4 linked regions of the Homo sapiens genome follow. The protein of the gene in region 2 interacts with the protein of the main gene of each other region in a biochemical or structural test. Each region holds a gene or a part of one and is shown on either strand. Other genes may lie near its edges. The genes, in order: EHD1, STON2, SYT1 and REPS1.

Evidence for each region.
Region 1: the proteins of STON2 (region 2) and EHD1 interact in a biophysical measurement, tested with the Homo sapiens proteins (one study listed by IntAct).
Region 3: the proteins of STON2 (region 2) and SYT1 form a complex in vitro, tested with the Homo sapiens proteins (2 studies listed by BioGRID).
Region 4: the proteins of STON2 (region 2) and REPS1 interact in a biophysical measurement, tested with the Homo sapiens proteins (one study listed by IntAct).

Annotation. Positions count from the first base shown.
Region 1 is NC_000011.10:64,854,622-64,861,658, forward strand, and holds part of EHD1 (EH domain-containing protein 1), read right to left. Parts: intron 5,716-7,037; coding exon 5,303-5,715; intron 866-5,302; coding exon 701-865; intron 237-700; coding exon 1-236. UniProt on the Homo sapiens protein: ATP- and membrane-binding protein that controls membrane reorganization/tubulation upon ATP hydrolysis. In vitro causes vesiculation of endocytic membranes. Acts in early endocytic membrane fusion and membrane trafficking of recycling endosomes.
Region 2 is NC_000014.9:81,271,301-81,278,337, reverse strand, and holds part of STON2 (stonin-2), read left to right. Parts: coding exon 1-1,437; intron 1,438-7,037. UniProt on the Homo sapiens protein: Adapter protein involved in endocytic machinery. Involved in the synaptic vesicle recycling. May facilitate clathrin-coated vesicle uncoating.
Region 3 is NC_000012.12:79,448,737-79,452,508, forward strand, and holds the end of SYT1 (synaptotagmin-1), read left to right. Parts: intron 1-181; coding exon 182-388; 3' UTR 389-3,272; downstream 3,273-3,772. UniProt on the Homo sapiens protein: Calcium sensor that participates in triggering neurotransmitter release at the synapse. May have a regulatory role in the membrane interactions during trafficking of synaptic vesicles at the active zone of the synapse.
Region 4 is NC_000006.12:138,943,241-138,950,277, reverse strand, and holds part of REPS1 (ralBP1-associated Eps domain-containing protein 1), read left to right. Parts: intron 1-2,364; coding exon 2,365-2,488; intron 2,489-4,580; coding exon 4,581-4,777; intron 4,778-4,905; coding exon 4,906-5,059; intron 5,060-5,655; coding exon 5,656-5,780; intron 5,781-6,262; coding exon 6,263-6,425; intron 6,426-6,701; coding exon 6,702-6,765; intron 6,766-7,037. UniProt on the Homo sapiens protein: May coordinate the cellular actions of activated EGF receptors and Ral-GTPases.

The sequences.
Region 1 (7,037 bases), on a different chromosome or scaffold from region 2:
CACTCCACGTCGTCGATGCCCTCGCCGGCCCCCTCGCCGTAGCCGTGCCCGAACGGCCCGTTCATGGTGCCGTCAAAGGCGCCGCCCTTGACCACCTGGGAAGGCATCAGGGACTCCTCCTGCCGCACCATCACCATCAGCCGCGCGATGTCGTTGGCCAGCATGTCATCCACCGTGTCCAGCAGCTTGGGCTTCAGCGCCTGGAACTTGCTGAAGTCCTGGGTCTGCAGGAGTTCCTGTGGGCGGGGGAGGAAGGACAAGGGCTGGGAAGGGAGGCCCCTCCCAGACTCCAGGCCAAGTGGTTCCAGTCAGGGCTTCACAAGCATAAAGTGCTGCTCCCCCACACTAGCAGGGGCGACTCGGCAAAACCATCTGGCCCTTGGCTCTCTAACCTGTACACAGGAGGCACCTCCAGCTCTTTCCTTGCAGGGCTGCGGCAAGGATTCATGGACAGGGCACCAGAGCGCCTGGCATGGCCCTGCCCTCCCCCCACCACGCAGGGTGAGTCACCACATTCCCCTCTGCAGTGTCACCGCCTGGGTCAACTCTGAGTTGGGTGGGGTGCTGGTGATTAACCCAGCTGCTTCCGTTCAGGGAGGCCCTTCCCCATGGAGATGGGATTCCCTCCAAATCCAGTGCCCTGGGCCTTCCTTCTGCCCTGATGGCCACCAGCCTGCATGGGGCCTCGGGACAGCCGTACCTGCATCTTGCGGAGGCTCGGGAAGTCCCCAGGGGAGATCTGGTGCTCGCGCTCAATCTTCTGGTAGATCTCTCCGAGGTTGTTCACCAGCTCTTTCTTTTTGCTCTCTTTACCAAAGACATTGGGCATCTCTTTCTTGAGGGAGCTGATGATGTAGGCGTGAACCTGTGAGGACGGGGTGAGCATCAGGCGCTCTCTTGGCCCAGGCTGCCCCCGAGAGCAGAGCCTCCAAGGACACTCCAAGGATACTCCAAGGTGCTCGCTCAGGAACAGGGAAGCAGGAGGGATGGGTCAAGCTCAAGGCCGCTACCACCACCGGCTCCCACAGTCCTAGGAGCAGACACAATCTGGCAAGAGCCACAGCTGTCCACTGCCACAGGACAGAGGACAGGACAGGAAAACGCACTTGAAACAGAAGACAACAGCCTTGGCCTTGCACGGATCATTGTGATGATTCAGGAAGAGTAAAACCCAGTCTGTCAACCCAAAGAAGGCAATTTGTCGTGTACCACTGGGCACATCACACACCCTCTGTTCAACCCTCACCACGCATCACACACCCTCCGCTCAACCCTCACCACGCATCACACACCCTCCGCTCAACCCTCACCACGCATCACACACCCTCCGCTCAACCCTCACCACGCATCACACACCCTCCGCTCAACCCTCACCACGCATCACACACCCTCCGCTCAACCCTCACCACACACCCTCCGTTCAACCCTCACCACAGCCCTGCGGGGTGGGATTCTCCCAACCCGGCCCTAAGCAAGGCTGGGAAAGGCTGCCTGGGGTGCTTGGCTCCCACATGGAGGAGCTGGGATTGGAACCCCGGGCTGCTGAAGGTGCCCCACAGCCCATGTTCTTCTGTTTCTCTGCAAGCCCCCTTCCCCCGAGCTGCCCCCTCCCACGCAGCAGAGCAGGGAGCAGGCTTCCTGCAGGGCCCACCAGCCTGCACGTCCAAATCCCTGCTGAGTGCCGATGGAGCCCACAGAACTCCAATGGGCCCGTGCCACGCTCCACTCCATCATCACAGCTCGGATGACGAAGGATTTGAAAAATCCCAAAAAGGCTTCTCCTGGTGGTTGCCAGCTTTATCCAAGCATCAATACCTTGCTTAGGCATGTGCCTGTTCAGGGCGGCACCCCCTTCATTTCCCTGCAGCAAGCTGGGAACCTGGCAGCCCTCGAGAGTAGCCCAGCCCTCAGATCCCTCGGCCTTGCCAAGTCGTGTCCAGCCACAGAGGGCTGCGGCCAGCCAGCCTTGCTGCCCTTCTCCCCGGCTCCAGCCCATCCACCACCCCGCTCAGCCTGAGCCTGTGCCCTGGGTGGGGGCCTGGCTGAGAACTGCCTGAGGGAGGCAGCCCCGTGCCATGTGGGTCTGGATCTAGAGTCTCCCCAGGGACACTGTGGCAGGCAGATCCCAGGCCGGTGGGAGTCATCACAGAGAGCACCACTCACTCCAGGAAAAGGAAGTGGCAGGTGTGAGGCAACACTGGAGGCCACAGGGTTTTCCAGGCGCGGTGACTCAGTGTGCCTGGGGCCTGGCAGTCACACATGGTCTCACAGACGACCAGGCAGGGGCTCATGCCTGCCCCTTGTCCTGTCTGTCCTCAAAGGTGGCTGAGCAAGGGAGCTCTCTCTGCCCTGCAAGGAGAGAAACTCAGCTAGGGCCACACCCACACCCCTCAGCTCAGGACGTCCTTTGTCCTTTGAGGCCAGGGTCAGTCACCTGGGTTTTTGTATGGGTTCCTCTCTCAAAGCTGGCTCCACTCACAGGGAGGCTCCAGAAGGGAGAGATCTAGAAAAACATCCAGCCAGCCGGGCGCGGTGGCTCACGCCTGTAATCCCAGCATTTTGGGAGGCCGAGGCAGGCGGATCACCTAAAGTCAGGAGTTCGAGACCAGCCTGATCAACATGGTGAAACCCCGTCTCTACTAAAATATAAAAATTAGCTGGGTGTGGTGACGGGCGCCTGCAATCCCAGCTACTCAGGAGGCTGAGGCAGGAGAATGGCTTGAGCCTGGGAAGCGGAGGTTGCAGTGAGCCGAGATTGCGCCACTGCACTCCAGCCTAGGTAACAGAGTGAAACTCCATCTCCAAAAAAATCAAAAAATAAAATAATAAAATTAAAAATAAGAAAAACACGCAGCCCTCTGTCCTCCAGAGCCGGCATCTGACCCACGCCCGTGCACACAGCTCACGGAGGTTCAGGCCAGAATGAGAATTCCTCATCTACAGGGTGAGGTGGGGCCCAGGGTACTTGGGGCACAATGGGAGGACAGTGGTGGCAAAGGATGAAGGGTCAGTTCTCACTGCTCAGACCAGGTAGCACCCACATGCCCTCTGACTGGCCTCCAGACAGAGTGGGTACGAGGGCCACTGTGCTCAACGCCTGCAGTCTCCATGCCTCTGAGCAGGCAGGGACATGGGCTCCCCAGGAAGTGCCCATCCTCAGTCCTCAGTTATATTCTGGAGATCAGGGGACTGTGACCCTGGCCACAGGCACATCTGTCACTGAAGCCTTCATGCCCACATGATGTCTACCCTGGTACCCCCTGCATGCCATGAGGTGGGGGCAAGCACCCTGCTCTGTTGAAGAACTGGGGACGTATCACCAAAGGGCCTGGCTTGGCAGGCAGGACAGTTCCCCAGCCACGCTCCGGCCTGGCTGGCCTGGAGATAGGAGCTACGGCAAGGGCCTTTTTTTTTTTTTTTTTTTTTAAATTAAATAGAGACAGGGTCTCACTAGGTTGCTCAGGCTGGTCTCTAACTCCTGGCCTTAAGGGATCCTCCTGCTTTGGCCTCCCAAAGTGCTGGGATTACAGGCGTGAGCCACCATGCCTGGCCAGAGCCTATTTCTTTTCTTTTTTTTTGAGACAGAGTCTTGCTCTGCCACCTGGGATGGAGTGCAGTGGTGTGATCTCAGCTCACTGCAACCTCTCCCTCCTGGGTTCAAGTGATTCTCCTGTCTCAGCCTCCCAAGTAGCTGGGATTACAGGCACGCACCACCACGCCCGGCTAATTTTTGTATTTTTTTTAGTAGAGATGGGGTTTTGCCATGTTGGCCAGGCTGGTCTCGAACTCCTGACCTCAGGTGATGCGCCCACCCACCTTGGCCTCCCAAAGTGCTGGAATTACAGGATGAGCCACCATGCCTGGCTGGAGCCTATTTCTGAAACAACCGAGCCCTGTGCTAAGAGCCTGAAAGAATAGCTAGGTGCCCTGCTGATACAAATGTGGGCTTGGTCACTTCTCAGCTGTTCAGACAATCTGTGTCAAACACTCCTGTCCACGGGGTCAACCCCAACCACAGCCGGGACTGTCACTCATGGTGACTCGTCTAGGCTGGCTCACGATAGGGTGCTATCCAAAGTCAGACACGCCAAGGGCATGTGTTCTGTCATTCTGTGTTGGAAGGGCCCGCTGGTGGCATTAACCTTTGTTTCCTGGCCCCACCCACACCGGCTCTCACTCAAGTACTTGGTCAGCCACTGAGATTCCAAACCCTTTGGCCATTCAGAGGCTGCTGATAGGTGCCACCAGGCCTGGGCTGCCAGGAGACCTAAGGATGGTCTGCAAGGCCTGCTGAACTGACACTGCCTCAGCGTGACCTTGGCTTCCATGCACAGTGCTCCCCGGGCTGCAGGCTGGCACCCTGTCTCCTCACGAGCTGCTTCCTGTCACAGCTTAAGCTTCAGCTCCTGCCAGGCCCCCCCAGCCCTTCTACTCCACTGGGACAGCCCCTAGCGCCAGCTCCCGCAGCAGCCTGTGCTCGCTCCGAGACGACACAAATAACTGATGTTTATTTTTTGTTTGCGTGCTCTGCTTTCCCCATGAAGGCTGAGGAGTGGACAGGGGCTGTGTGTCACTCCCCGCCAGTACCCGGCATCCAGCACTGTGCTGAGTGCACTTCAGGCTCAGTAAACCCCAGAGGGGTAATCCCAGCACTCTGGGAGGCTGAGGTGGGCAGATCACCTGAGATCAGGAGTTTGAGACCAGCCTGGCCAACATGGTGAAACCCTGTCTCTAATAAAAATACAAAAATCAGCTGGGCATAGTGGTGCGTGCCTGTGATCCCAGCTACTCGGGAGGCTGAGGTAGGAGAATCATTTGAACCTGGGAGGTGGAGGTTGCTATGAGCCGAGATCATGCCACTGCACTCCAGCTTGGGCAACAGAGCGAGTCTCCGCTTCAAAAACAAAAACAAAAACAAAAAACCCTAGAGGGAAGCCAACAAGCCTTAGAGCTCTATCCCCCAACACTCCATTTCTGAGGCTGCCTCCTTTGCTTCAGCGGTAACTTCCTGTGTGCTGTTTCTGTGTTGTAAGCACAGTCAAACCCTTCCTGAAAGTAGATGGGGTATAAACCACAAACAGAACAGGTTTAGAGGGAGGCCGGGTAGAGAATCTTAGTTAAGAGCAGGCTGCACGCGGGTGCTGACCAAAGACTGGTTTCTATAGAGGGAAACAGCGCAGTGCAGGTCTGCCTGTGAAGTGAGCTGGGAAGGGTCTCGGGCAATCCTGGGGCCCTGAGTGCCAGTCTCAGAGCCCCATGGCCCTGCCTGGCAATAGGCTGCTCCCCTCACCCCAGGGTCTACCTTGGCCAGCCGTGCCCGCTTGATCAGGTCATTGAGCTTCCTGAGGGCGGCGTTTCGGGGCAGTGACTGGATGTCCTTGAAGAGGTCCTGCTCCTCGGCCTCAAAGAGCTTGCGGTTGTCGGGGATGAGGAGCGGGTGGGACCAGAAGGAGCCGATGTAGACCCTGACCACCTCGGGGGTGTTGATGATCTTGCCCAGGGACCACATGAGGGCCCCGTACACCCGCATCAGCTGCTGCGTCTCGATCTGGTCTGCCTTGTTCAGCACCACGCGGATCTTGTCCTCATGGTTCTTCAGAGCCTTGATCACTTCCGAGAACTCATCGGAGATGTCCAGCTTGTGGGCGTCGAAGAGCAGGATGATGCGGTCCACACGCTCCGCGAACCACTCCAGGACGGCTGCAAAGTCATAGCCTGGGGGGAAGAGAAGGGAGAGCTCAGGGGCGCCAAGGGACCTGCTGCTCTGATGGCTCTCATCTCCAACCTGGCCTGGTATTTCTCAGCCTGAGATAGTTTTTAAAATTCCTATAGGCCGGGCGTGGTGGCTCACGCCTGTAATCCCAACACTTTGGGAGGCCAAGGTGGGAGGATCACGAGGTCATGAGTTTGAGGCCAGCCTGGCCAACATAGTGAAACCCTGTCTCCACTAAAAATACACAAATTAGCCGGGCAGGGTGGCGCGAGCACTCAGGAGGCTGAAGCAGGAGAATCGCTTGAACCCAGCAGGTGGAGGTTGTGGTGAGCCAAGCCCATGCCACCGCACTCTAGCCTGGGTAAGAAGAGCAAAACTGTCGCGAAAAAAAAAAAAAAAAGAAAAGGCCAGGCACAGTGGCTCACACCTGTAATCCCGACACTTTGGGAGGCTGAGGTGGGTGGATCACAAGGTCAGGAGTTCAAGACCAGCCTGGCCAACATAGTGAAGCCCTGTCTCTACTGAAAATACAAAAATTAGCCCGGCATGGTGGTGGGCACCTGTAATCCCAGTTACTCGAGAGGCTGAGGCAGGAGAATTGCTTGAACCTGGGCGGCAGAGGTTGCAGTGAGCTGAGATTGCGCCACTGCACTCCAGCCTGGGCAACAGTGTGAGACTCCATCTCAAAAAAAAAAAAAAAAAATAGCCGGGTGTGGTGGCACATGCCTGTAGTCCTAGCTACTCAGGAGGCTGATGCAGGAGAACTGCTTGAAACCAGGAGGCAGAGGTTGCAGTGAGCCGAGATTGTGCCACTGCAGTCCAGCCTGCGTGACACAGCGAGACTCCGTCTCAAAAAAAAAAAAAAAATTCCTAGGTGTTCATCTAGACAGCACAGCACCCTGAGGGCAGGATTATCTCCCCTATTCCTGCCCCCACCATAACACTCCCCAACCCATGTAGCACTTGGCATAAACAGGTGCTAATGCAAAGGTCGTCCCACAGTGCAAGCTCTAAGGTGGGTCAGAGGAGGGCGAGAGTGAGGAGGAGACCCAGCACTGTGCTCAGCACAGCACAGAGGGTAGAACATAGACTCCAGTGTTGCCACCTGCCTGCTGTATGCCCTGGGACGGTAGTGACAAGAGGCGCCTGCAAAAGTAACTGCAGCTGCTACTTTTTCAGTGCTGATGTGCCAGGCTCCCCATTTTGCAGGAATCTCACTTATTTTCTGCAACAAGGGTTGGCAAACTACAGCTCAGGGATCAAACCTGGCCCACCACCTGTTTGTATAAATAAAGTTTTATTGAAACACAGCCATGCTCATTTG
Region 2 (7,037 bases):
CCTCCCCTATCAACCCTTTCAGTGCTTTCTTTGAGGAGCAGGAGAGGCGCTCCCAAAACAGTTCCATTTCCAGTACCACGGGCAAAAGCCAAAGAGATTCCCTCATTGTCATCTACCAGGATGCCATCAGTTTTGATGATTCAAGCAAAACCCAGTCACACTCTGATGCTGTTGAAAAACTCAAACAACTCCAAATTGATGACCCTGATCACTTTGGCAGTGCAACTCTACCTGATGATGACCCAGTAGCCTGGATTGAACTAGATGCTCACCCGCCTGGATCAGCACGGTCCCAGCCTCGTGACGGGTGGCCAATGATGTTGAGGATCCCTGAGAAGAAAAACATCATGTCCTCCAGGCACTGGGGACCGATCTTCGTCAAACTGACAGACACTGGTTACCTGCAGCTGTATTATGAGCAGGGCCTAGAAAAACCATTCCGTGAGTTCAAGCTGGAGATCTGTCATGAGATTTCAGAACCCCGGCTTCAAAACTATGATGAGAATGGCAGAATCCACAGCTTGCGGATAGACCGTGTCACCTATAAAGAGAAGAAGAAATACCAGCCCAAACCTGCTGTGGCCCACACAGCAGAGAGGGAACAGGTGATTAAGCTGGGCACCACCAATTACGATGACTTCCTGAGTTTCATCCATGCAGTTCAGGACCGTCTCATGGATCTGCCAGTGTTGTCAATGGACTTGAGCACAGTTGGCCTCAACTACCTTGAAGAGGAGATTACAGTGGATGTCAGAGATGAATTCTCTGGCATTGTGAGCAAAGGAGACAACCAGATTCTCCAGCACCATGTCTTGACACGGATCCACATCCTGAGTTTCCTGTCTGGGCTCGCAGAGTGCCGCCTGGGCCTCAATGACATCCTCGTCAAAGGGAATGAAATAGTTTTGAGGCAGGACATCATGCCCACCACCACCACAAAGTGGATCAAGCTCCATGAGTGCCGTTTCCATGGGTGTGTGGATGAGGATGTTTTCCACAACTCACGGGTCATTCTGTTCAACCCTTTGGATGCGTGCCGGTTTGAGCTAATGCGGTTCAGGACAGTGTTTGCTGAGAAGACCTTGCCTTTCACACTCAGGACGGCCACAAGTGTCAATGGGGCAGAGGTGGAGGTGCAGAGCTGGCTGAGGATGTCAACTGGCTTCTCCGCCAATCGTGACCCCCTCACTCAGGTTCCCTGTGAGAATGTGATGATCCGTTACCCTGTGCCCAGTGAGTGGGTGAAAAACTTCCGCAGGGAAAGTGTCCTGGGGGAAAAGTCTTTGAAAGCCAAAGTGAACCGGGGGGCAAGTTTTGGCTCCACTAGTGTTTCTGGCTCTGAGCCTGTCATGAGAGTAACTCTGGGAACTGCCAAGTACGAGCATGCCTTCAACTCCATTGTGTGGAGGATAAACCGACTGCCGGACAAAAACTCAGGTGGGTGGTGGTTCCTCTTCTGTGAAAACAAACATACAGTTGTGAAAAAGCTGAGATCAAAGTTCCACATCCTGTATGAAGTGCTTGTTTTTGCTGTGTGATGGGAGTGGTGATGGAGGGGGAGTGGGACCAGAAAAGTAAAAATAATTGAGCAAGGTAAGTAATGCGTATAGTGACCCAGTTCACTCTGTCTTTTCACCCTCTCATTATCACACATCTTCCATAAAACTAGGGATTATTCTTCTCAGCTGAGCTGCTAAGCAGCTTTTCAGGGCAGCTTCTGAATTTATATTCTTTGGGGACTCATTAACGTATTAGCTGTGGTGCTGGAAGTGATTCATTTCTAGATGGCTTCTGAAGAGACATCTTTCTCACACTGCCCTCGATGTAGGTAAAAGGGCCAGTTTATGGCCAATCATGGACAATACACTGAGAGGTTAATTTTACGACTCCAGCTACCCTGTGCAGGGTCTGTTAGTCATAATATCTCACATTCAGACTTTGGCTCTGGGACTGGGGGATGGGAAAGAAAAGTGGCCTTCAATCAGACTGAAGATCCAGCTAGGACATGAATTTCTAAAAGGGCCAGAAGTCTAGCAGACAAAATATAAAGAAAAGAATGTTTTATTTAGACAAACAAAAAAATGCTTACCAGCCCTAGCTGGGCTGCTCGCAGCTATCAGGGATGCTTTTGTGCTTGAGTGAGTCCAGAAGGCAATTACTTCCCCCGTGGGTCCCGTGAGATTTAGTGAAATGACAAAATGAGGGAGCAGTCAAACCAGCACTAATACACATATTTCTTAGAGTATGTCTGGGTGACCCCAATGGTAGGCAGCAAGCCCATGATCTTGTAAGCCATTAAACCCCTTCTTTTCTTGTTTAGAATACATTTTGCCCATCTGTTAACGAAAGTGGATACGCTAGCTGAGCAAAAAGGATAAGGTTTGGAAAAACTCTTGAGTGAAATGGCTTTCTCTTATGTGGCTATCCTTTCTTAGATTCTCACTATAAATCGTAGCAGTGTGTTAAGAGTCTTCCTCTCCCGCTCTGAGTGTGGAGTGTCTGTATTATTATATCCTAAGTGTAATGCAATGTGACGGCCGACGGCAGTATAATCGGGCCAGCTCCCCAGGCAGTCCAGGGAGTGGACACACACCAGGGCATTCTGTATCAGACACTGGGTGTAGCTATGCAAACTGAAGAGACAATTGGATCTCTGTGTTTGAGGCTGGATTTGCTACTCCCTACTTCTAAACTGACAGAATTTTTAAAACCAAGTGTTCCTCTCTGTGCCTGCTTATTCATTTCCCCTGAAATCAGCACTGTCTTCTGCTGGTGGTAGCACTGTAACTTCTACCTTATCCACGGGGCCCCTCTGAATTGACAGAGGAAGAGAGAAAACCCTGAACTCTCCTTTGACACGGAAGCCCTTGGAAAGAGACAACCATGGAATTACCGGATTTTCAAGCTGGAAGGGACCTTGAATAACTTAGTCAAGTTATTTATAGATGAGAAAATTAAGGTCGGGAAGGTGATGTGACGTATCTAGAGAGTCATGCAGTCACATCCAGGGTCCTTTTCTTAATATATCACTGGTGCCTCCTGGTAGATGAAGCCAAATAGACACAAATATTGAAATAATTTCCACCAGAAGAACAGATATTTGCAGTTTTTCCAGTATGTACAAACGTATCTATTTGTTTCAAAGTGATTTCTCCCAAACATTTAAAAGTACTGCATGAAGGTTTATTATTATTATTATTATAAGCAACAAAGACTTATCGGCTACCCTAAGCAACAAAACAAATTATTGGATAGGATAGCTCAGAGACCTGAGGAAAAGACTGATCAAGAGAAGACTTTAGACAGACAGCACTAGAGTAGCTCTGGTCATAGAGACTAATGGATGTCTCCTCAGCATGTAGCCTTAGGACAAATCATCACAGACTATTTTTTGTTTTTGTTTTTTTGTGTTTGTTTGTTTGTTTGTTTTTTTGAAATGAAGTCTCGCTGTGTTGCCCAGGCTGAAGTGCAGTGGTGCGATCTTGGCTCACTGCAACTTCCACCTCCTGGATTCAAGCGATTCTCCTGCATCAGTCTTCTGAGTAGCTAAATTTTTGTATTTTTAGTAGAGACAGGTTTTCACCATGTTGGCCAGACTGGTCTCAAACTCCTGACCTCAGGTGATCCGCCTGCCTCGTACTCCCGAAGTGCTGGGATTACAGGTCTGAGGCACCGCACCTGGCCCTATTTTTTGTACTTTTGCAACTTGGCTCAAGAGACTAGGGGAGAGGAGTGCATTTTGACTGACGTGACCACCAAGACAACATGTAGCACCGGGGAAGATTATTTCCCAAAAGGAGAGAAAGAAAAAGACTGCTACCAGAAGAGAGGGAGGATGGATACAGGACAGGGAAAAAGCAAAACCAGGCCTTCAGCAAACACTCTCCTTAATGATTCCCAGTGGAGAGTGTTCTGTTGCCTCAAGGGCAAGTAAATGCAGCTTATATGCTGTTTTACATATCTGTTTCCAGATTGCTGGAACCTCGTTTGTGGAAGATTTTTGAAATACAGCACAGCATAAGGATATCTGTTGATGTTTCTTACTTAAATCCTCACAGCCTTGCCCCATTACTGATTTTGCTGTCATGGTTATATAACAATATTTTCAATAGTGAAACCCCATAAAGAGGCTTCTTATACTTCTCTAGCCAGTGGTATGTTTCCATACCAGTTCAGGAAATGGACAGCACCCTTTTTTGGAAACTTGAGGTGTATAGGATCTGAATTCCAGGCAGAATGTAAGTTCTCACTCATTGCTGGTATTCACTGTGCCCAGCTCCTGCCCTCCCTTGCAGTGTTCCATCCGGGAACCCAGAGAATTGATGGTTATCTTTCAGTAATAGCCCTTTCCTGGGCTCTGCTGTCTAGGTGTTCAGACAGCCCTGGGAAGGTGCTTTGTACAGGTTATTTTTTGTAATCCTTAACCTTCTTTAAGGAAGCTAGGGCTCAGCTGAGGTCAAAGGCCCCGCTGACTGGAAGCCTACTTCTCCTCACACGTTCCTGCCTACGGTGGCCCTGCATTTCCAGGCCCCAGTGGGCAGGGCAGTCAAACCCCAGGCAGCAGAGGCCAGCAGGTCAGCAGGTCAGCACCCTTGTGTTGCTGGCATCCCTAGCCTATAGCAGGCTTGTCCCAGTCCCAGCCACCAAGAGATCAAGCAGCTACCTTTGAATTCCAACGTGACTCCCGCCGGCGGGGCCCAGCCCAGCCTGGCCCAGCCCAGCCACATACGTGGGCAGCTCCCCTCTCTGAGCTCTCCAAGGACCCCTCCTACCTTCATCCCAAGAGTTTTTCTTAATCTTAGAAGGCACCGAAACAAGTCCTGCTGCTTCCACAGATCATCTGCCAGGAAATAAAACATTCTGTCCTGCATAAGTGGCTTTCTTTGCAGGAATCCCCCTTCTCATTAGACCAGGTGAAGGGAAAACAGTCCCAATATGTTCATCCTTGTATGGGAAATTTTAAAAATCTGAATTTTTTGTTGTTGAATTTTCTCAACCTCATCAAGGGAAATGACAGAATGTGTGGACTTATTTAATGCATTACTATGAATTAAACCATAATAGCTTTCAAAATTGAACTTCCTTAACTGTCCACCACCCTTACCCATCTGAGAGTCGATGCTAGAATTCTAGTAAAGAATGCTGCTTTCAGAATTTGCTGTGAGTACACTTTGGTGGAGTAAAAGGAGGGAATCAGTTGTGTAGAAAGGAAAGATTTCTCCATATTCCAACAATGTGCAAAATAAGTGTAATTAGATTAAAAGAGTTGTCCAAGTTGCTATTAAATTAAGAGATGCATCTGTATACTTTGTTGTGATCTAATTTCACAGCAATATATTGAGAAGAATTTAGGACATAGTTTGAAGGCAGAGTCATCTCTGAATCTTATTTCCAGCTCTACCACTTAACGGCTGTGTGACCTCGGGCAATTTACTTAACCCTCTCAGAGAAACCTAATTTTTTTCATCTATAAAATAGGGTTATTAATATCTAGTTCATTCAGAATGAAATGAGATAATGCTTTTAAGGGCTTAGTGCAGTATCTGGCCTGTAATAAATGTCCCATAAATGATAGCTGTATAATTACATCTGTGGCACACAATTTAAAAACATTGAGTGGATTCATTTTCAATTACTTTAATTTTTACTGTTATATGTATCTTAAATTCTTTTCTGAAAATCAGTGCAAATTTTTCAATATTCCAAAGCATTACTCTTTAGAAATAACCACTGAAATATGTTACGTTTGTGAAACAGAGCAAAACAAATACTTCACTATCTAATGTTTTCCTTGGAGAGCGGGTGTGTATGTCCTTACTCTCTGAGATTGAAAAGTCCTAGCCAGACCAATAAAGAACATTGGAATTGTTTGTTTGTGGAAACTGGGATAACTAAGGGGCTGTTTCAGTTACATAATTAAGGCAAGGTCATTTCATGTTGTTTATCTATAGCTAGTTGCTATATGGGGGTTCTTACAGCTCAATCCCTCTCTACCCCTGTCACCCTGCAAACTTGGTCTTCTGTTTTGGGGACCATGAGGTTATAACTCAGACAAAGTGGTTAAGAACACTCTGGAGTCAGACTGCTAGGTTCAGTTGTTTTTTGTTTTTTGTTTTGAGACGGAGTCTCACACTGTCACCCGTGCTGGAGTGCAGCGGCGCAATCTTGGCTCACTGCAAGCTCTGCCTCCCAGGTTCACACCATTCTCCTGCCTCAGCCTCCCGAGTAGCTGGGACTACAGGCGCCCGCCACCACGCCCGGCTAATTTTTTGTATTTTTAGTAGAGACGGGGTTTCACCATTTTAGCAGGATGGTCTCGATCTCCTGACCTCGTGATCCACCTGCCTCGGCCTCCCGCTAGGTTCAGTTTTTAGCTCTGCCACTTTCTAGCTGTGACTGTGGGTAGCTCATTTTACCTCCCTAAGCCTTAGCTTCCTCGACTATAAAATGAAGGTAACATTCTGACCTGAAAGATCATACTGAAGACTCAAAGAGAGAATCTGTATAAAAGATTTAACATAGAAGAAGGCATAGGGTACTTCAATGTTTCCTGTATGGCAGGTGAATGACAATGATGTTTCAGTGGTTATAGTCACAGCAGTAAGCTCTCTTTTTCCTCAAAAATCTCAATAACAATTCTCAAGTAAAAATCAAACCCAAAGTTTGCCATCACGAGTATAGTGGAGTTACCCATAGATGTATAGAATTAAGGAGCAGCAAGGGACTGTGCCTGGCATTGCCCAGCCCACCCTGTTGTACTTCTCCCTCTTTATCCCTTGTACCCTAATCTCCCCACTTTACAGAGGAGGAATTGAGGCCTGGAGAGTATAAAGGACTTGAGGGCAGGAGCTCTGCTGCTTAGCAGGGGAGCTGGAAGTCCAACCCAGGTGTTCTGCTGGTTGGTGTTTTGTCCAGTGTTCCATATGCTTCCCTAATATCTATGTGCTATTTATAAAGTCCTTGTCATTTACATATATCATTTACCCGCAAAAGCATGCCAAAAGCATTTTGAAAGTATGAAATACTATTAAGAAAAT
Region 3 (3,772 bases), on a different chromosome or scaffold from region 2:
AGTGCAAAGTATATAATAAAAATTAACGTTTGAGTATTAAGATTCAAGTCATTTTCATCCTCATCCTAGTGCTTGGAGATTGATTCTTCTATTTCCAATTCTTTAGCGCTCAAGGACGCTTTATAGTCGGGCCTTATCTCTAGAGCTAGATGATTCATATTCATTTCATGGCTTCTTTCAGAAAGTGCAGGTGGTGGTAACTGTTTTGGACTATGACAAGATTGGCAAGAACGATGCCATCGGCAAAGTCTTTGTGGGCTACAACAGCACCGGCGCGGAGCTGCGACACTGGTCAGACATGCTGGCCAACCCCAGGCGACCTATTGCCCAGTGGCACACCCTGCAGGTAGAGGAGGAAGTTGATGCCATGCTGGCCGTCAAGAAGTAAAGGAAAGAAGAAGCCTTTCTGCATTTGCCCATATAGTGCTCTTTAGCCAGTATCTGTAAATACCTCAGTAATATGGGTCCTTTCATTTTTCCAGCCATGCATTCCTAACACAATTCAGTGGTACTTGGAATCCTGTTTTAATTTGCACAAATTTAAATGTAGAGAGCCCCTAAGTCCTTCATCATACCACTGCCCTCCAAATCTACTCTTCTTTTAAGCAATATGATGTGTAGATAGAGCATGAATGAAATTATTTATTGTATCACACTGTTGTATATACCAGTATGCTAAAGATTTATTTCTAGTTTGTGTATTTGTATGTTGTAAGCGTTTCCTAATCTGTGTATATCTAGATGTTTTTAATAAGATGTTCTATTTTAAACTATGTAAATTGACTGAGATATAGGAGAGCTGATAATATATTATACGGTAAATATAGTATCGTCTGCATTCCAGCAAAAATATCAACTCGTAAGGCACTAGTACAGTTAAACTGACATCTTAAAGGACAACTTAAACCTGAGCTTTCTATTGAATCATTTGAGTACCAAGATAAACTTACACCACATACTTGGTGGGTGAATCCAATTTTGTAGAATTCCTACACAGGCAAAATAGCATGATCTGAGCAGCAGCATCCAGGCTGACCTCAAGGAAGCATAGCCACAAAACAGAATAGCACCTGTCTGTACATATTTACAAAGCTAAAATAATGGCTTCACTCTTATATTTGAGGAAGCAACTGAACAGGAGTCAATGATTTCATATTACTGCATATAGAATAACAACAAGGTGTTCCGTGTGTGTGTGTGTGTGTGTGTGTGTGTGTGTGTGCACATTTGTTTGGGGATGGGGGAGAAGAAGCTAAGGGGAGAAGTCAACATTTATGAAATATTGCCTGACTATTTAAAAAGAAAAAAGTAGCTCTCCATTATCACCTTTATACAAAATGTACATCCTGTGAATTCTGTTCCAGATTTCACACCTACAATAATTCCAAAAGGTTTGCACATTAGAGTTTGTAACAAAATATTTTATTATATAAAACCAGGTTAGAAGGAATGCAGGATATTTTTAACACAACAATCTGTGCTTATTACACAAAATTACTTTGTGGTAAACAGACAGTATTGTAATCCCATCAAAAGATGAAAGAAAAACAAAAACAAAAACCAACAACAATTAGCCATAGTTCTGAATGCACTTCAATTAAGCCAAAACAGACAGCTAGTGATCTTTTTATATGCTCTTTTTACTTAAGTTTTAATTTGTCCTTTAAAAAAAGGTGAAACAAACCAAGAACAAGTTCTAGAAAACTGAAGCAACCTCTTATGTATACTAGATGCTTGATTTAGGAGGAGTTTTTAAACGTTTTCAATGTTATTATGTAGTAAATGACACTATTATGAAGCTACTAGTCATTCCATAAGAGTCTTAAAGGACTGCTCTGTGTAACACTGTGACTGCCGTGTGTGCTTAGACCCGTAGTTTCCTCAGTGGATAGCACTCAATTTATTCCGTAGTGATATTGTAACAATACTGCCATTCCCTTCTACTGCACTGCCCAAGGTGTGTGTAGCACAAACAGTTCTCATTACAAAGGACCAATTCAGAACTGAAAAGCTATGCATAGGACAAGGAAGATACATAGAATGGGGTGGAACACAGCATTTTGTCAAGCACTGTGCAATATTCCATATTTTTCCCCACTATGGTAGACAACCATTTCGTGGAAGGGCAGCCTATTATCCCACACTGCATCTAGCCTTTTGTCCCATTCACTTCTGTGATCCATTTTAATTTCCAGGCCACAAGACAGTAGTGATGCTCTGAAATGAAAGTTTGTCTTCACAAATATCAAAACAAAATGGAGGAAAACTAAGCATTGGCCTCATGTTCAGTCTTCAGGATATCACACCACGTCTTTTCAAAAACTAAAGAGAATTCAAAAAGGGCTGATGGTAGGCTTTGAACATGGGGTTGGCTGTTTCCCAGTAAAACTGGAATTCCTGTCGTTACTGTTTCCTTATCAAAGAAGGGGCAAGCTCTTTTGCCTTTTAGGCCAGACATAGCAAACGCTTTATAATTGGCATAGACATAAAGGATAAAAGGAAAATAACCGTCTGCCGATGGTCCGTACTTCTTAAAAAACATAGGTAATAGAAAATATACACAAGTCAGAATGTGAAATTAAATAATGGTTTGAACAGAAAATTCAAACAAGACTCTTTCCAATTTAAAGGGCCAAACCCTACCAAAGAGAGGGAGTTGACTGGCTTTTAAAAAGTATTTAAATACCACAAATGACATTTAATTTCACTGTATTCAGCTTTAAGTTGTTCACAATGAAACCACACTTTCAAACAAGCAGGTTCAAGCTGCTGAATAGACATTATTTCTTGCATTAAAATACCACTAATGCATTCTCTTGCAACACTGCCAGACATGGGATTGTCACCATAGAATTAGTTGGTACTATGCCATCTTTCACTCTTTCACAAGTCAGTGATGGAACCTGCTTTATGACCAAGATTCATCCTCAAATAAGCCACATGTACCCTTCTGACAAAGCTGTGTAAAGTATTAGAATCTGATGCTCTAGAAAGATCCTAGTTGCCTTTGTGTATATTTACTGCCTGCTTGAGTGTTTCTATGTGTGGGTTTTCCCTGTATCTTGTAGAAATGTTGGGGTGTTTTCCTCTGCCATATGGCTCGTGGCCTGCGAGCCAACTATTTCAGCTGTATTTTACCTTCATTTTTGATGAGGTGATTTAAATTTTGTTTCACTTTGTGTAGTGAATTCCACAGTAGTTTTCTGATTGTTGTTAAAAATGACTTAACATATTACACAGATATTCAATAAAAATGTTTTATTTCCTGTTGATGTTGCTGCGTTCCCACTCTTTTCCTTGCCTGACTCTGGTGGTAAGCCAATGGCCTATTGACTTTGGGGGACTCCTGGAAGCAGCAGCAGCTAAACAAAACTGCACTGAATGCCAGCATCTGAGTCACATCTGAGTACAGAATAGCTAGAGGGAAAACAACACCCGGGAGCATTTGGCCATGACCGCGTGGTGTTCCTGGGCAGTGTCATTCTCAACATGTGTTTCTCTATTCCTGTGTGTCATCAGTTCATCTGGCGTACTCTGAGGCTTTTCACTTTGCCCAGCATGTGTCCTTCAGGGTTTTCACTCCAGAACCCAAGTCACACAGCTTCTCCAGAATGGGACGGAAAACAAAACTATTTAAACCCCAGTTTCAGAGGACAGTATGACACATTAAATTCTATGCCTACTACGATCGCTATGGGAAACAAGTAAATACTTTTCCTCCACTAAATTTAACATTTATCAAGTGCCTACTGTACTGGACGCTGAAGCCCAC
Region 4 (7,037 bases), on a different chromosome or scaffold from region 2:
GGTCTTGAACTCCTGGCCTCAAGCAGTCCTCCTACCTTGGCCTCCCAGAGTGTTGCAATTACAGGCATGAACCACTGCTCCTGGCCTCAATAGTTAACTATTGAGGAGGATCAAAAGGATATCTGATTTGTTTCTCATTCCAAAATAAATTCCAGTTTGGTCAGACTTGTATATTTTCAATATTAATCATAAACATTCTAGAAGAAAACATGTATAAAGACCTTTTTTCTAAGTCTAGCAAACCCAAAAGTCCTAAAGGGGAAATGACAAGCTTGTATAAAAATTGGAAAATTCTGTATCACCAAAACAGCTTTTTTGGAAAAAACAGATAAACTAGAAAACAACATGTGCAATATGATCTGGTTTCTGCCTAAGTCATCAGCTCCATCTGCTGCATTCCCTCCTCCCCATCAATTCTACACACACTTACAGCTACACTCTGGTCTTTCCTTCCTGAGGATGCTCAGTAAATAGTCATTGAATAAATGAATTAATTCCATGACAGTTTGCAGGTCAATATGTATAATATAATAAAACCTTTTTTTTTTTTATGAGATGGAGTTTCAGTCTGTCACCCAGTCTGGAGGGCAGTGGCATGATCTCGGCTCACTGCAACCTCCATCTCCCGAGTTCAAATGATCCTCTCACCTCAGCCCCCCGAGTACTTAGAATTACCAGTGCGCACCACCACACCTGGCTAACTTTTGTATTTTTAGTAGACATGGGTTTCACCGTGTTGGCCAGACTGGTCTTGAACTCTTGATCCCAAGTAATCTGCCCTCCTTGGCCTCCCAAAGTGCTGTGATTACAGGCATGAGCCACTACCCCTGGCCACAATAAAACTTCTTAAAATGAGTAAAGAAGATTAACAGTCCATTTAAAGTTGCCAGAGAACAAGTTGGGCAAGTCAGGAAAAGAAATGCAAATGGCTAACAAATATAAAACTTTTAATAAATACCAATTAAAACAGCATTGAGATTCTGTTTCCCTTCTTGAACACTACCTCCTCATTTCTAACCATTTCCCTGGTGTCTTCCCAAAATGTCAACAAACCATACTGTGATCTCCTTTTAGGTCTTCCCTCTGTCTAGCATATACCTGGCATATGTTAGTTGCATTGTTATATAAACAAAAGTATTTAAGATATGTAATGAACCTCTAAGAGGCGTCAAGTGGGCAGAAGAGTAGAGGATTGGGGCTGCATGACCTTGCCTTTTTAAACTCCCCTTTTCCTCATAGTTCCCTTGATGGTGTTAACCTGCCTGTTTATTCTCTTTGCCCTTTTACATTTCTTCAGAAGGACATGCTCCTTAGTGGCAGGAACAGGAACTTCTTCCAGTGCTGGTCAGCCAGCAAAAATGACTCTTTTTTGTGTATGTAAATAAATGGCTGTTATTGTTGTGATACAATTGCTTAATCATTAATAGGTCCTTTTTTTGAAGTCCTGTGAATAGTTTTATTCAGACTTAATACCACAGCATCTCAGATACCTTATCTTCCTTTGAGTGTTATGGAAAAATAGACTAAAACTGCTCTCTCTATACAAAAGTTTGTGTTATTTGAAAAGATACAACAGGCATGCCTAGTGTTTATTTTAAGATAAGATTATAATATCTGCATAGTAGAAACCTCCAGCTTTTAGAGTTATGATTTTGTAATCTGAAATCCTATTTTTTGAGTCTAATATTTACTTGTGCTAGCAAGTCTAGAAATACTTGTTGAAAGACTGGAATGATTAATGTAGATCCTTGAACACTTTCATGCTCTAAAAAAGACAAATTTTGTTTGTTTTAAAGAAGAGTAGTGTAGCCATATTAAACACATTTGGAAAATAAGAGGGAAAACCCGACTCAATCTCATCTGAAAAAATTGTGATAGACTTTTAAAAAATAGTTTCCAAATTTGTATTTATGTGGTTAAAATTAGGTATCTTGCCTTTCTTCCCCACTTGATAAATCCTTAGTATTTTTCCATGTTGTTATATCATTTAAAGACCGTCACTTTAAATGGCTGCATAATAGTCTCTTAGTCACATGGTCCTATTGTATGTGCAGTGCTTATGAATAAGAGTGGGTGGTACGTTGTTTCTTTAAAAATGTGACTCATAACAAAAATTTATTCTAAGAAAATTGCTAATCATATGGATTTTGATAAATAGGAGAATGATGACCTTATTGCAAAGCAGTGACTTTTTGTTTGTAAACATATGAACCTGAAACTTGAGGAAGTTGGTTGTCAGTTGTGAGTATTATACCATCTATTAGATAGATATTTTGAGACGTTACAAACAAGTTGGGTAGCTGCTTATTTTTGAAGGGAGATTTTTGTTGTGAATCTTAATGTTAACATTATGTTATTTTATAGATCATGGAGCTTTGTGGTGCAACAAGACTTGGTTATTTTGGAAGAAGTCAGTTCTACATTGCTTTGAAACTTGTAGCTGTTGCCCAGTCTGGTTTCCCTTTAAGAGTGGAAAGTATAAATACAGGTAAATATAGAGTACACTAGTAACCGAAAGAAAATAGGCTTCTATTACAAATGAAGTCAAGTCAATAGAACTCTTGTGTCTTTCTGATCTTATAGTGGCATTTGTGACCTTGAGTGAAGTGTCGTGACTTTATTCCCACTACCTTGCATTTCTCACTTGAAAATACTAGAAAAATATGTCTGACCTGTATTACGGCATAGTATATGTACTTCATCTGTATTTGACTATATGTACTGTTCAAATGGCAATTTTTTAAGAATTAATTTACCAAAAGTTGTTTAGAAATATTTTAGGCGAATAGTTTTATTAAGGTAAATGATAAATTACAGCGACCATCTTCATGTATAGCGTCCCTGTGTTCTTCATTTCCAATAAAACAACATTATACTTTGTATTTTTGTTTGTTTGTTTGTTTGGGAAGGCTGTGGAGGCTTCAGTTGAAATTAAGAAGTAACAGTTAACCTAAACTTTTTGATCGATAAGAGACAATATTAAAATATTGGCAGACTAAAATCTAGTTATAGACATCTGACCACATTACAAGTTTGTATTAGTCCATTTTAACACTGCTATAAAGAAATCCCTGAGACTGGGTAATGTATAAACAAGAGAGGTTTAATTGACTCACTTCTGCATAGCTCGGGAGGCCACAGGAAACCTACAATCGTGGCAGAACGTAAATGGAAAGCAAGGCACATCTTATGTGGCCACAGGAGAGAGAGAGAGAGAGAGAGAGAGAGAGAGAGAGAGAGAGCAAGGGGGAATAGCCACAGACATTTAAACCATCAGATCTCATGAGAACTTGCTCACTATCACAAGAGCAGCATGGGGGAACCGCCCCCATGATCTAATCACCTCCCATGTGGGAATTACAATTCAAGATGAGATTTGGGTGGGAACACAGAGTCAAACCATATCGAAGTGTTACATCAGATAATTTGTTTTTCAAGTATTTAGAGGCTTGTTGATGTGAAAGAAGATAGAAATTCTATAAAGAAAGGCACTTAAATGCAGAGGGTTCTTTCATTTTCATAGAGTAAAGGGGAAAGAGAAAAATTAAGATTTTAAAAATAATCTGTACAGAAAAATTTCTGTAAAATTCTGTAAATATCAGAATTTGTAGAAATAGTTTTAAGTACCAGTTTAGTTTATTGGTCGGTAGAGGTTTTCATTGTGGACCTCTAGTTTGCCACACATCATTCTTCTAGTGTTGGGAGTTTACATTCTTTTCAGGTAATTTTGAATTCTTTTACATGTATATTGAATAAGCTTAATAGTTTCCTTCCTTCATGTGGAGGTTCTAAACAGAGACGAAAGTAATCATGTAATGGAGGTAAGTACGCTTTCCTCTGAAATGATTTTGTAGCTGTATTTTTTCTGGTCTAAAAGTATCACTTATTTACCTGCAAACAGTTTCTCAGTCCTTCATCTTTCTCCTCTATTTAAAATTGAATGTAGAATATCTGGCTGTAGGAGAAACATAAGCCAGACTACAGTGGATAGATAGAATACTCTACCATATTTTTGGGGGGTGAACAATAAGGTATTTTTAAGAATTTCTGCCATGAAAATTTCTAAATCTAGTCTCAGACTTAGTGACATATTCTGTGTTTTACTTAGAGGTCTAAAATCTTACTTTAAAGACCCGGTGTGAGTAGAAGCAGCCTAGGCTTTGGGGTCTGACTGATCTAGGTTTATATCTTAACTGTCAGTTACTACAAGCATGACCTTGGCATCATGGAGCCTCAGTTTTCTTATCTGTAAATAGGAGCTTTGCAGGGGTACTGTGGTTACGAGGTGAAATAAATATTCAGTGGCAAGTATAGGGCCAAACATACGTAGACATTTGATGTAGCCATTGTTATCACTCATTAGAAGGACAATTTGGTTTTATTACTTCTTTCTAGATAAGAGTCTCCCTAAATAATGTAAGGGAGATGGTGGTCCAAATTTTGTGGTGATAGACATTTTGTGCCTCTTGTTTCTGTATCCATTTTTACAAAAATTCTAATATCTAATTCATGTCTTATTTTAGTTTTCAATATATATGTCCTTTTTTATTTTGAAGTAATGATTATTTTGTGGTTAACAGTAAAGGACCTTCCTCTGCCAAGATTTGTTGCTTCAAAGAATGAACAGGAATCTCGCCATGCAGCCTCATATTCTTCAGATTCTGAAAATCAAGGGTCGTATTCTGGTGTAATTCCCCCACCACCTGGCAGGGGGCAAGTGAAAAAGGGATCCGTAAGCCATGATACGGTTCAGCCTCGTACATCTGCAGATGCACAGGTAATCACATGCATGTAAATATTAGCAGTTGATGCCCTGTGCAAATGCTTCACTAAGGCTCTTATTGGTAGCTTAATAATTAAAATGTCTCCTTAAAGTTAAAATTTTAAAATAATATTCTTTTCTAGGAACCTGCATCCCCAGTAGTTTCACCACAGCAATCCCCACCAACTTCTCCACACACATGGAGGAAGCACAGCCGTCATCCCAGCGGTGGGAATAGTGAGAGGCCTCTCGCGGGACCTGGGCCATTTTGGTCTCCCTTTGGTGAAGCACAATCAGGTATTTAGAGATTGATTGATTAGAGTGTCATTGTGTTGCCCAGGCTGGTCTTGCACTCCTGGGTTCAAATGATCCTCCTGCCTCAGCCTCCTGAGTAGGTGGGGATTATAGGCTTGTGCCACAGAACCTGGCTTAGAGATTTTTTGAAAGTAACAATTATTTAGGGTTGTAAATTGAAGGAAACTTGATAATATTCCTTCAGGAGTTGCCTCCCAGATAGTTTTTAATTGTAAGTTTAAGTTAAATAGAAGCAAAAACCAACTATGGAAATTTGTAAGTGGATACATTGCTTTGAAAAGTGGTAATTGCATTTATGTGTATCTGTGATGTTTAGACAAGTTTATGGATACCAGATTCTCTAAAGGTAAAATGAATAATTATTTCCCAGAATATTATGTATATATTACATACATTTTATTGACAAGGAGAGCACAAAATAATTGAAGATATTTAAATGAGGTATAATTTCTAATAGAACAGAAAAGATTCCATTTTGGAAATTGTTAGATTTCTTCAGAGTAAGAGTTGGAAAGAAAACTTCCTAGTAACTTTTTTCCTCAAACATGAGTCAGCATGTTTACCCATTCTCCTTATAGGTTCTTCTGCTGGTGATGCAGTGTGGTCAGGGCATTCCCCACCTCCACCTCAAGAAAACTGGGTCAGTTTTGCAGATACTCCACCAACCAGTACTCTTTTAACCATGCATCCTGCTTCTGTCCAGGTGTGACATTTTATTGGTATTGCATTTTTATTTGCTTCATTCAGAGTATTGCTCCAGTCGTTGTTTTTATATTTTGCTGTTGCAGATTTTATAAATGCAAATCCACTCATTTATTTAAAAGCAAAATTCTGCTCTGTGCATTTCAAATCTGTTATCATTGGAATGTTTCAGCTGATTTTATTTCTGTTTCTGATTCCCTAGTGAAGTTTTGAAAGGTTTCTGCATCTGGAAATATATTTGCTTGGCTTTCTTAGCACATTTTCATAACTTTCTGTTGCTTACATAATTGCTGTCATTCTACTCGTTTCTATAATCATTGTGCAAAAACATATCCAATAATCTGACTGTAACAGATGTGTGGTTTTACATTTTAAATATACACAAAAAGCAAGTTTTACTTTCAAAGATAAATAACCTAGCAATCTTGGTCCATATAATCATGTAGGTAGATATTGTACTGAGGAAAAAATGTTTCATTACAGGACCAGACAACAGTACGAACTGTAGCATCAGCTACAACTGCCATTGAAATTCGTAGGCAATCCAGTAGTTATGATGATCCCTGGAAAATAACAGATGAACAAAGACAGTATTATGTAAATCAGTTTAAAACCATTCAGCCTGATCTAAACGGATTTATTCCAGGTGAGTTGTTGAAAACAGAAGTTCTTCTAGATGGGACAGGAGAATCTCAATTTCATAATATCAAAGACATTGTTTTATTGGTCATAGATTTTAATTATAAAATAATTATCAGATTATTTGTCTAAAAAGAATTTATAATCACTGGGGGCCAAAAACATGACATATTCACATATTAAAAATATCTTTTCCCAGTTAAAAAAGTCTAAGACTCTTACATTCTGTTCGTGGATCCGTAAGTTCAGAATAACATTAAACAACACTGTTTTAATATTTCAGGATCTGCAGCTAAAGAGTTTTTTACAAAATCAAAACTTCCTATTCTTGAACTTTCTCATATTTGGTAAGTGTGGTATATCATTAGTTGGGTAACTGGGTTGCTTCCAAGGAGTTTCTAGCAGATAGATTTTAGAGCCTTAAAAAATAAACAACTAACCCCTTCAAGAATGCTGTCAAAGAACTCAGTATTGCCTTACAATAGCCAGCTTCTCTCTTATTCTGCAGAAAAGAAATAAGTGATACTGATACAGTAGTTCTTTGTAAAGAGCTAAAATTCTTTAAGCTGTATCAGCTGTTTTTTTGTTGCTAGCATAATGTATGAGATAAAAGTTAGTT